3 linked regions of the Homo sapiens genome follow. The gene in region 3 interacts genetically with the main gene of each other region. Each region holds a gene or a part of one and is shown on either strand. Other genes may lie near its edges. The genes, in order: COPE, PDSS2 and FH.

Region 1 (3,526 bases), on a different chromosome or scaffold from region 3:
CAGCTCCTTTTTGTTGTTCGGGTGGGCACAGCTCAATGGTGACATCTGGGAGGCTCCGGCCAGCCCTGCTGCCACCCACCCACCTCCCTCCCTAAATGGTGCGGCCGCCTCTCATCGCGGCTGGGTGCTTGGCCCCAGGACCCTGCCACAGCAGGACTCTGCCTTGGAGGAGGGTTTGCGGGGCGGCAGGAGCAGCACCTGGGGTTAACGCTGACCCTGCAGGGCCCCTCCGGCTTTGCTGAGCTGAGGCCTGAGTTTTTCCTGCCCTGGCCCCCACTTCCTCCAGGCCACTAGGGGTTCTCATTTTGAATCTTGGTGCCCCTCATGATAGCGGCATGACTTCTCTGTGCCTCAGTTTCCCCCGATGCCAACCAGGGCTGCTCAGTGGCCTCTAGGGGCCAGGGTGAAGCATGGGGACAGGGCTGTGCTGCCTCTGGCCTGCAGGAGCAGGTTGTGGCTGTGTGAGGGGCGGGGTGGGGGTCTGCACACCTGCTGCTCGTCACAGACCCTGGTCTCCAGGAACAGCCCTGGATGCCAGTGCCCCAGGACTCTCCCTGAGCGTCAGCTCCCACACGCCCCCAGCAAAGTGACCAGAGCACATCATCAGGTGGAACACCCTGGAGTTGAGATATTTATTAACAGATGGGGGTGCTGGGGGTGGGCTCCTGCCCCCAGAGGGGATGCAGGTGGATGCCGGGTGGGGAGGGCTGCAGGGCTGGCTCCTGGCCTCTGTCCTGGCTTCATGGTCCTGACAGCTCTGGGCCAGCCTCAGGCGCTGGGAGCGTACTGTAGCACCAGCCTGTCAAAGTCGTTCTCCTTTAGCAAGACACATGGCAACACAGGGTGGGGGCAGGGTGTGGGGAGACAGGTGGAGGGAGAGAGAGAGGGCGCATGTGAGCCCAGGCTGAGCTCCAGGCGCCCCCTGGCCTGGTTCTCGGGGACAGGCCATCCCCACCACTCACCTTGGCCTGGTACTCCTTGATGAAGGGATGGGACCTGTGGGCATCCTTCAGCTGGGACAGGTATCGGTTTGTCACCTGCAGGGGAGGCAGGGAGGCAGGTGAGCCGAACACGGGGACCCCACGGTGGCTCTGACCTGCTGGACAGGGGTGGATTGGGGTGAGAGCCACAGTACCCCAGGGGGCTCCTCACCCTGCCTTGGGACTGGGCTGATCTCGGAGAACCTTCAGGGTGGGGGTGGAGGGATGGGCCTGCCCCCTGGAGAGGCGCTGGCATGGAGCTGGCCTCCGTACATGGTGGGGGATGTATTGTGGTGTTCAGGGGAGCAGGTCGGGCAGGGCCCCAGGTGAGGATGGGTTGGGGGGCACAGGGTTTGTGAGGGAGGTGGGCTGCGGTAGGCATACTGTATACAGAGTTTTCCCAGGGGCCTAGGGATTAGGGCCTGGACCCCAGGCTGGGGTCCCAGGGTCTGGACATTAGGGTTGGCCTGGAGCCCTGGGGGCCGCTTACCTCAGGGGGCTTGCCCAGGTGCTGGGACAGGACGATGAGGTTGACCAGCGTCTCTGGGTAGCCACTATCCTGGAGACACAGGCAGACACGGGGAGGCAGGGTCAGCCACTCCAGCCCCCATGCCTGCCCGTCACCCCCACCTCAGGCAGCACCACACAAGGTCACCTCCTCAGAGGTGGGGTGGGACTGACACCGCCCACCGCTCTGCAAGGTGGAGATCTCAGATGATACGGTGCCAAGGGGCCAGCCGCCTCGCTGAGCCTCAGTTTCCCCATCTGTAGTCCAGCCTGGGGTACGACCCCTTGTTTACAGAGACTTGGGAAGGTTGTATTTGTCCCACACATCTCAAAGCCATGGGGCCCAGACCCAGATGGCCTCAACTCCTGCTGTACAACGAACCCCGAGGCCATGGGCAGACCTGCCACCCCTGCACCAGCTCCCAAGGAGCCTTGAAGGAGACCTCGGCAGGGGACCTTGCCTGACTCACTCACTCTAGGCTCCCAGCACACAGGACCCTAGGAAACATCTAGGCCAGGAGACCCAGCCAGAGCCCTGGTGTCTGCTTGGAGCACAGACACACCAACGAGGATGCGCCCAGAGCCCGACCTGCCCACGGCGGCCCATGGCAGGGCACCTTTTTGCAGACCGGACTTTTCTGAGCCTCAGTCTCCACCATGAAGGGGGACACCAGCTTGCGCTCACAGGAGCAGCCATGAGGTGGCTCCAAAGGGAAGTGGGGGGACCTGAGTGCCTCCCAAAACCCAGCAAGAATGCAGGGTGACCACAGCCACGGGGAGGCCACCAGGGCCAAGGGGCACGGCCAGCCAGCCCCAGGTGGTGTTTCAAGAGACAAGGACAGAAGGGAGTCATCTAACTGGTGAGTCACGGAACGTGTCACCTGAGAGGTGTAACAAAAGCCCCCAGAGGATGCGGCCATGAACACAACATGCATCCAAGTGTTCTCAGGTGGCAGGGAGGGGCAGGGTGGTGGAGGAGGGCGCCAGTCTTGCCCCTGGGGCAGCGAGGGACACACAGCCTGTCTGAGATTGCACATCAGGCTGGGAGTTCCTGACTAGCCCTGACTGCTCAGAGCTAAAGATGGACCCTGCTCAGGAGGAGCAGTACCCGGCCTGTGATGGGGCCAGCCTGATACCCCTTGGCCAGCCCCGCTCTGCAAACAACTTTCTGATGATAACTCAGCCCCTGGAAAGTCAGACAGGGAGGAGGGCTTCACCAGTGTTTGTCACTAGATTAAAACTGTTTCTCAGCTGGGCGCACTGGCGCATGTCTATCATCCCAGCACTTTAGAAGGCCAAGGAGGGTGAGAATTGTTTGAGCCCAGGAGTTCAAGACTAACCTGGACAACACAGTGAGACCCCATTTCTAACAAAAAATACAAAAATTAGCCACGCATGGTGGCATACCGTTTCAAAAAACAAACAAAAAACCCCCCAAAATTCGTTTCTCCAAAATGGAAAAAGCTTTGATGTCCTTTCTGATTATAAAAATAATAATCCAGGCTGGGCACAGTGGCTCACGCCTGTAATCCAGTACTTTGGGAGTCCAAGGTGGGCAGCATCATGAGGTCAGGAGATTGAGACCATCCTGGCTAACACAGCAAAACCCCATCTCTACTAAAAATACAAAAAATTAGCTGGGCATGGTGGTGGGCGCCTGTAGTCCCAGCTACTCGGGAGGCTGAGGCAGGAGAATGGCATGAACCCAGGAGGCAGAGCTTGCAGTGAGCCGAGATCACACCACTGCACTCCAGCCTGGGCGACAGAGCAAGACTCCATCTCAAAAAAAAAAAAAAAAAAAATCCACCAAGCATGGTGGCTCACACCTATAATCCTAATGCTTTGGGAGGCTGAGGTGGGACGATCACTTGAGGCCAGGAGTTCGAGACCAACCTGGGCAACACAGCAAGAACAACCCCGTCTTTACAAAATATATATATATTTTTAATTTAACATAACATAAACTCTTCATAAAGACTGCAGATGGCCAGGCGTGGTGGCTCACGCCTATAATCCCAGCACTTTGGGAGGCTGAGGCG
Region 2 (3,655 bases), on a different chromosome or scaffold from region 3:
AAACTATAAGAACTTCATATGTGCTAAGAAATAAATATCCCTGAAGAAGGGGCAGGGAGAAAGGCTATTGGTCTTGTATTTTGGAGTGAACTAGCCAACTTGTTATGTTCTGTAAAAGCCTGCCGTGATGCTGAGGAAGTGAGAATTCTGCTAAGTGGGGCCTGAGGAAGGAGGCCAGCCACCCCTGTGGGGGAGGCAGAGCTCTGTCACTCAGCAGGCAGCAGGGGGCTACTGCTCCCAGGGATCCAGGTTCCAGGGAGTCAGGATGGCAAGGTACAGGAGATGGGATAAAGGACACGAGAGCAGCTGGGAAGATGACAGGGAGGTAGGAAAGGTCCCGAAGAAAGCAGCAAGGCAGGTGTTGAGACAGAAAAGTCCAGGGTTACATGTCACATAGGAGAGCTGGAATCCTTTAGGTCATGCAGAGGCAGCTTGGCAGGAAGCTTGCCATTAAGCTCTCTCCATTCCTTCAGGGCCTCTCTTTGGGTTTCACCTTCCCTCCTCCCTGAACCTCACACAGCATCTTTGCTATTTAGACAGTCAAGAATAGTAAACTTTCAGAAAATAAAACAAACCTGGAAAGAATTTCATAATTATCTTGTTTAATCTCTTTTTTTTTTTCACACTTGACTTTCAGGTCAACTTTTGAATCTCATTGTACAGATGAGAAAATTGAGGCTCAGAAGGAAGTGACTTGTGCAAGGTCATACAGCAAACCAGATGCTAACGCAGAATAAGAGGCGCCCTAGGATCCTGCCTGGTGCCCTGCAGTGCCCGACCATCTGCTTAGTAAAACCTACTGCTTGCTGAAGTTCCTGCACATCCAACCAGCACACCTAACGCAAAGTATGACTTCTTTGTGGAAGTTAATGATTAAAACCTAGTCTGATCTAAAGCATCTTATCCATGGTTACTAATTAAGCCAATTTCAGTGACAGAAAGCATTTCAAACAGAACAGTGTTCTCTTAAGCTAAATCTATAGGCCTCAAATTATGGTGGCATAAACTGTACAATTATGATATTTTGAGTACACTTAAAATATTTTATAATACAATACATTAACCTCTGTAGCTTTACATTTTCTCTTCATTGCATGCCACATGTTGGGCCCTGATAAAATGGTTTTATAACTTTTGGGGGAGGGCTTTAACTAAAATAACTTCATGTAGTGTTTGAGCGAACTAGGTAATAAAATCTGTTTGCTGTATTCGCTGTCTCCAGATAGGGCTGTAATTACACCACATGAGGAAGAAAGGTAGCTGAGTTTCAATCTAGATCATTTATGTAAACTCAGCCTTCTTGTCAACGGTGTTCTCAAATTGCATGAGTGCAAACCTCAAAAATCATCTCCTATGAACCACACAGAGACAGTGTCCGATTGCAGGCCTGTGAGATTGCTTATATTCTTTCTGTAATTGGATGTCTGTGGTTCAAGACCAAAATTTGACATTCTGAGGTTAAAAGAACACTCTCACCAATGAATTCCCTAGTACAAAAATTCTGTTTCTGAAACTCGTAAAAATTAAAGTATGCCTTAAACCAAAGTATTACAAATGAATACATTTCACTTGAAAAAAAGCTCCTTTTTCCTTAAAGAAAAAAAAAATTTGGTTCTTTGAAATGTGTTTGAATAAAAAAACTGATCTTCAGGAAAGAAAAACAGACTATTCCTAATATAACCAATTTAACATTTGATAACATTTTAATCTCCTACTTCAAGTATTTGGCAACTTTTCGGCAATTTCTCCAAAAAGACATTATAAAAACCATAAAGCACAAAGTATATTCATACTGCATTATAAATCCAGAGACATGAGGCCAGGTGCAGTGGCTCAAGCCTCTAATCCCAGCACTTTGGGAGGCCGAGGCAGGCGGATCACCTGAGGTCAGGAGTTCGAGACTAGCCTGACCAACATAGTGAAACCCCATCTCTACTAAAAATACAAAATTAGCCAGGCGTGGTGGCAGGTGCCTGTAATTCCAGCTACTCGGGAGGCTGAGGCAGGAGAATCACTTGAACCCAGGAGGCGGAGGTTGCAGTGAGTCAAAACTGCACCATTGCACTCCAGCCTGGGCAACAAGAGCAAAACTACATCTAAAAAAAAAATAATAATAATCCAGAGACATAATTACAAGCCAACAAATAAAACATATTTTTCTCAATCCATTGAACTACTCTCCATTATGACAAATTGGTCACTAGTTTTTGATTAGACAATCCTCCCTGGTTGGTATTGAGAGCATTTCTCTTGACACCTGCAGCTTCCAACTTGCTTTGTCCTCTCTAGCAGGAAAAACCACAGGCCACCGCCCTGGCGCCATCCCTGGCTCGGTCCAATCAATAAGGACTTATTTCCTGTCCATTTGCTGAGGTCACAGGAGCGAATCTCATTAATTATTTCTGCGACTGCAGCCTCAAGTGTGCTTCTGGCGTGACAAGTGAAAACTGCTTGACCTTTTTTTCTTCTAATTTTGTTTGTAGCAGTTCCAAAAAGAAAGCAGAACTCATTTAGCAATGTGATAAAAGGAAGGAAAAATGCATATGTTTTAAAAGTCATTAACGCATCGTGAAAGCGCTCCCAATCAACCTCATTCCCTAGGATTTTCAGCTAACTAACAATAGTGTCTTTTTAATTTGATGTCATGAAAATCTGGTCACAGCAAACACAATGTTTTCTAAAGCAGATCTGGCCTCCGAGGGAGGAAAGCTCTCCAGGGCCTCCAGTGCCTTGTTTCCATGGTAACGACACAGGTCAATAGCTGAAGTCACACCTTTGCCAGCTTTGATTCTTTCTCGCAACTGTTAAGAAACAAATGCATGATAAAAGTCAGTTTTAAAGGTACACAGTAAGCACCACAATTAAATTGGGGAGGGGAGATGGAAAACAAAGAAAGGGAGAAATAGTATAGATTGAGTATTTCTGCTACGTTATTTTCTGGAAAAGAGGACATCATTTCCCAGTGATCTTGAGGCACTCATTCCCTAAGGCTGCTTGGTGTCTGTGCTCCAGAGCAGCACAATAGGTTCCAATCAGCTTAATTACAGCTCCTCCTGACTCCCATCCCTTAATATCTTGAAATGTGCCATGCTGGGGGATGGCAGTAAGAAGGCGGAGGGCATTTACATCTCTGGCATTTTGAATTCAGCAGCCTGATATTCTTCCCTTTTTTTTTTTTTTTTTTAAAGAGATGGAGTCTCGCTCTGTCGCCCAGGATGGAGTGCAGTGGTGCGATCTCGGCTCACTGCAACCTCCGCCTCCTGGGTTTAAGCAATTCTCCTGCCTCAGCCTCCCACATAGCTGGGACTACAGGCATGCGCCACCACACCCATCTAATTTTTGTATTTTTTAGTAGAGACAGCGTTTTGCCATGTTGGCCAGGCTGGTCTCGAACTCCTGACCTCAAGTGATCCACCTGCCTAGGCTGCCCAAAGTGCTGGGATTACAGGTGTGAGCCACCGCACCTGGCCAGCAGCCTGATATTCTTATGTGAGGAAGGCTTCACTAATATCTTAGTTAATAACTTTTTTTTTAACACCATATGTTGACACAATAGTCCATATGAAAATTCAAGAAAGACACATAGTATTAGATCTGAATGTTACTTTTTTTTTTTTTTTTTGAGACGGAGTCTCACTCTGTTGCCAGGCTGGAG
Region 3 (3,652 bases):
TTCTTTAAGACAATGTTATTAGCATATTAGTAAAATTACATTCTCAATATGCATTATCAAATAATCAACTGGTTTTAAAAAGATTTATATATAAAATAAAAAATCAAGTAAAGTTCAAATGATATCTTTTCAAAAAATTTTCTTAAAACTATATAAATTAAGGAAAGTCAAAAGGCTTAAAAACAAAAGGTATAAAATCATCCAGAAATTTTGTCACAATGTAACGTTTTAAGCACCATATTAATATCACCACTAAAAATAATGCTACCACCCTCCCCTGAAATTCATTAATTCAAGAATTCACAGTTCCCCTTTCCTTCTGCCAGAGCATATCGTCATCCAGAGTATGGCATGGGTCTGAGGTTATTAAGCAAACACACTTATCACCTCCTACCTCATCTGCTGCCTTCATTATTGCATTAGCAATCTTTGGATCAAGACCATAATCCTGGTTTACTTCAGCGGCCGCTCGCTTCAAGATGCCAAAAGCTTTAATAACTGGGGTCTAAAATTAATCAGAAAAATATTTCAAATTTACAATTTTACTTAAGCATGGAAGTTTATTATTTTGGCAGATGCAAAAGCTATACATAAAACAATAACAATAAAACAGTAACACTATAGCTCTAAAATGTTTCGGTTATAGAGAAAGATTATAGACAGGAATTCATGAACCAAGAATCAACATTATCATAGATCTATTTGTTTAAGGAACCAAATAAAAACAAATACATTGACTCTTCATATATATATGTGTGTACGTCTCCCACATACATATACACACATATTCACACGAATACAATCCTATGCACAAATACACACAATAAATTATATGTGTTTATTTCATATACTATAAATAAAAACAAATTTAGTACTCAATCTTTTCACCAGCAAGAACCATTATTTTCTCTTACTGGATCCCACGTTACATTATAATTGTTTCCTTCCCCTCTTAAAAAAATAAATAAATAAGGGATATATTTAACTGCCAATCAGTATGAGACTACCAGTGACTGACTGGGTTATCATTTCACCCCAAGGCCAAAAAGCAATCTATTCTACTTAGCTAGTAAAGCCTTAATACTCAGTAACTCCCTGGACATTTCTCTCAGAAGAATTATTTTTTTAAACCCAAGATTCTCCAGACCTAAAGGTGACAGCTTCCGATATATATAAAACCCCATTAATGCAGATATTTTCATTGTCTATCCCAAATCACCTCACCAAGCTTGAAAAGGATAAACTGAAATGAAAACCTAGTTTTTATAAGACAAGTGAATTGTGAGTTCTTGTCAAAATTAATAATACAGATTGTTGTATAGATCCCACACCAGGTTTGAATGGGGAAAGAGTAGAAGGGAGAAAGGGAAGAAAGGAAGAGAATGATGAATGTATAAGAGAGAACCTGCTATCTCTGGAATCAAAGTAGAAAAAGCCAAGAAAAGTAAGAAATAAGACACATTAAAAACATAAACCTGGACCAGAGTAAGTATAAGCTGAGGGTCAAATAGAAAAGGAAAACCAGAAAATTTGAAATTTCAATTTTAAGTAACTAAAATTAAAACATTAGAAACGTTTGACTCAAACGAAATGAGGACAGATGGCACACAGGATTAGAAACTTAAAAACTTTAAACACAAAAACAAATGGGAATTTAAATCTCCACAGTAACAAACACTGAGGTAGTGGGCTGAACCACTACCAAGGGCAAAGGTGAATGCCAATCAACGCTGGCCATCTGAATGGAGTGAATGACCCCCAGTGTTTATGGACCATAAAAATAAAAAAGGGTCATTCACAGCAGAAAGAGGTTCAACGAACACCATAAAATGGCAAAATGTATCACTAGAGAGAAAAGACAGGTCACTTTATTCTTAATTTATTCACATTAGATGTTCATAATCTTTTTAGCTTTGTTTTCCTCTGGACCTCAAGTAAAAAGGGTTGAGTTTAATCATACTACTCAGTTTAGAGTACATACAGACTGTTTTACACATAATAAAGTTCAGAAAGTATGACAAAATCGAGACCCCAGGTGTCTGCCTTTCACAGGTGTGCAATCCCAATGGCTGTGCTGTCTCTGGAGCAGCAGCAGCAGGAACCATGCCCCACCAGAACCACAAAACATGCTGGTGACACAGATCAATGAAAACGGCAGCCATGCTCACTCCCACCAACACTAGCTGGGGCTGACCTCCTCCTTAGTCTCTGGAGTTGAATAATATGAGATTATTTTAGGATTGGTCACTACCCTTTTTCACCTAACCACGTAGTCAAACTATGTTTACCTCACCACCAAGAAGGCTGTAGATGGCAATGACAAAGATATTCTCATCAAAGATTCAGCTGCCTGTTGTAAAGTTCTATATACCTGTCAAGAGGCAGTCTTGAAGGCTTAGGAATGACTTAAAATTATTGAAAATAAAAGCATATTTATAAGATAAGTGTTAAACAATATCTCACAGGATGAAGCCTATCTACTTCTAGGCTTACTAGCCTATCCTGCATTGACTATTTTTCATACTCCGGTTGGGCTCCCGTAGAATATGTTATGCATTTCTCAATTCTTTTCACACTTTAACATCTCTGAAATCAAGATGTATCTTGTAATCAATGGTAAGTCACAACCTTAATTGGTAGCATTTTTCTTTCTTAGTGGTGCCTATTGGTGCATCTTCTAATTAATGGCATCTTAAATTTAATTGAATGTGGTAGAAAGTTTTCTCATCATTTAATCATTCATATGGAATTGAATAAATACTTATATATTATCTATTATATGTCAGACATGGTTAAGAGTAATACTTTGATGTGTTTGTGTACTATACACTTTTTAGGAAACTGAAACCAAAATACAAAGTGTAATTTTAAAAAATCTCAGTTTTAAATTAGTGGGGGAAAAAAGAATGAGTATTGAAATAAAAATATTTACAAACTGTAGAACCCTAGTAAAAATCTGTAAATACCCAGCAAGAGTGAAAAGACAATCATTTAGTTCTGCCAAATAAAAATCCAAAATAACTATTCACAATAGCAAAGACATGAAATCAACCCAAATGTCCATCAATAAAGGATAAAGAAAAAGTTGTATATATCCACCATGGAATATTATGCAACCATAAAAAAGAATGAGATCATGTCCTTTGCAGAGATATGGATGGAGCTAGAAGCTGTGACCCTCAGCATACTAACAGAGGAACAGAAAACCAAACCCGCATGTTCTCACTTGTAAGTGGGAGCTGAACAATGAGAACATATGGACACAAGGAGGGGAACAAAGCACACAGGGGCCTGTGGGCGGAGGGGGAGCAGCAGAAAAAATAGCTAATGCCGGGTTTTAATATCTAGGTGATGGGTTGAGAGGTGCAGCAAACCACCATGGCACACATTTACCTATGCAACAAAACTGCATATCCTGCATGTGTATCCCGGAACTTAAAATTAAATTAATTTTTTTTTTTTTGAGACGGAGTCTCACTCTGTCGCCAGGCTGGAGTGCAGTGGTGCGATCTCAGCTCACTGCAACCTCCGCCTCCCGGGTTCAAGCAATTCTCCTGTCTCAGCCTCCAGAGTAATTGGGACTACAGGCGCGCGCCACCGTGCCCGGCTAATTTTTGTATTTTTAGTAGAGACAGAGTTTCACCATGTTGGC

What was found.
Region 1: changes in FH (region 3) and COPE together harm fitness more than expected from each alone (negative genetic interaction), as found in Homo sapiens cells (one large-scale study listed by BioGRID).
Region 2: changes in FH (region 3) and PDSS2 together harm fitness less than expected from each alone (positive genetic interaction), as found in Homo sapiens cells (one large-scale study listed by BioGRID).

The regions. Positions count from the first base shown.
Region 1 is NC_000019.10:18,898,911-18,902,436, forward strand, and holds the end of COPE (coatomer subunit epsilon), read right to left. Parts: intron 1,540-3,526; coding exon 1,471-1,539; intron 1,038-1,470; coding exon 963-1,037; intron 817-962; coding exon 769-816; 3' UTR 604-768; downstream 1-603. UniProt on the Homo sapiens protein: The coatomer is a cytosolic protein complex that binds to dilysine motifs and reversibly associates with Golgi non-clathrin-coated vesicles, which further mediate biosynthetic protein transport from the ER, via the Golgi up to the trans Golgi network.
Region 2 is NC_000006.12:107,151,977-107,155,631, forward strand, and holds the end of PDSS2 (all trans-polyprenyl-diphosphate synthase PDSS2), read right to left. Parts: intron 2,802-3,655; coding exon 2,643-2,801; 3' UTR 586-2,642; downstream 1-585. UniProt on the Homo sapiens protein: Heterotetrameric enzyme that catalyzes the condensation of farnesyl diphosphate (FPP), which acts as a primer, and isopentenyl diphosphate (IPP) to produce prenyl diphosphates of varying chain lengths and participates in the determination of the side chain of ubiquinone.
Region 3 is NC_000001.11:241,513,209-241,516,860, forward strand, and holds part of FH (fumarate hydratase, mitochondrial), read right to left. Parts: intron 506-3,652; coding exon 395-505; intron 1-394. UniProt on the Homo sapiens protein: Catalyzes the reversible stereospecific interconversion of fumarate to L-malate. Experiments in other species have demonstrated that specific isoforms of this protein act in defined pathways and favor one direction over the other.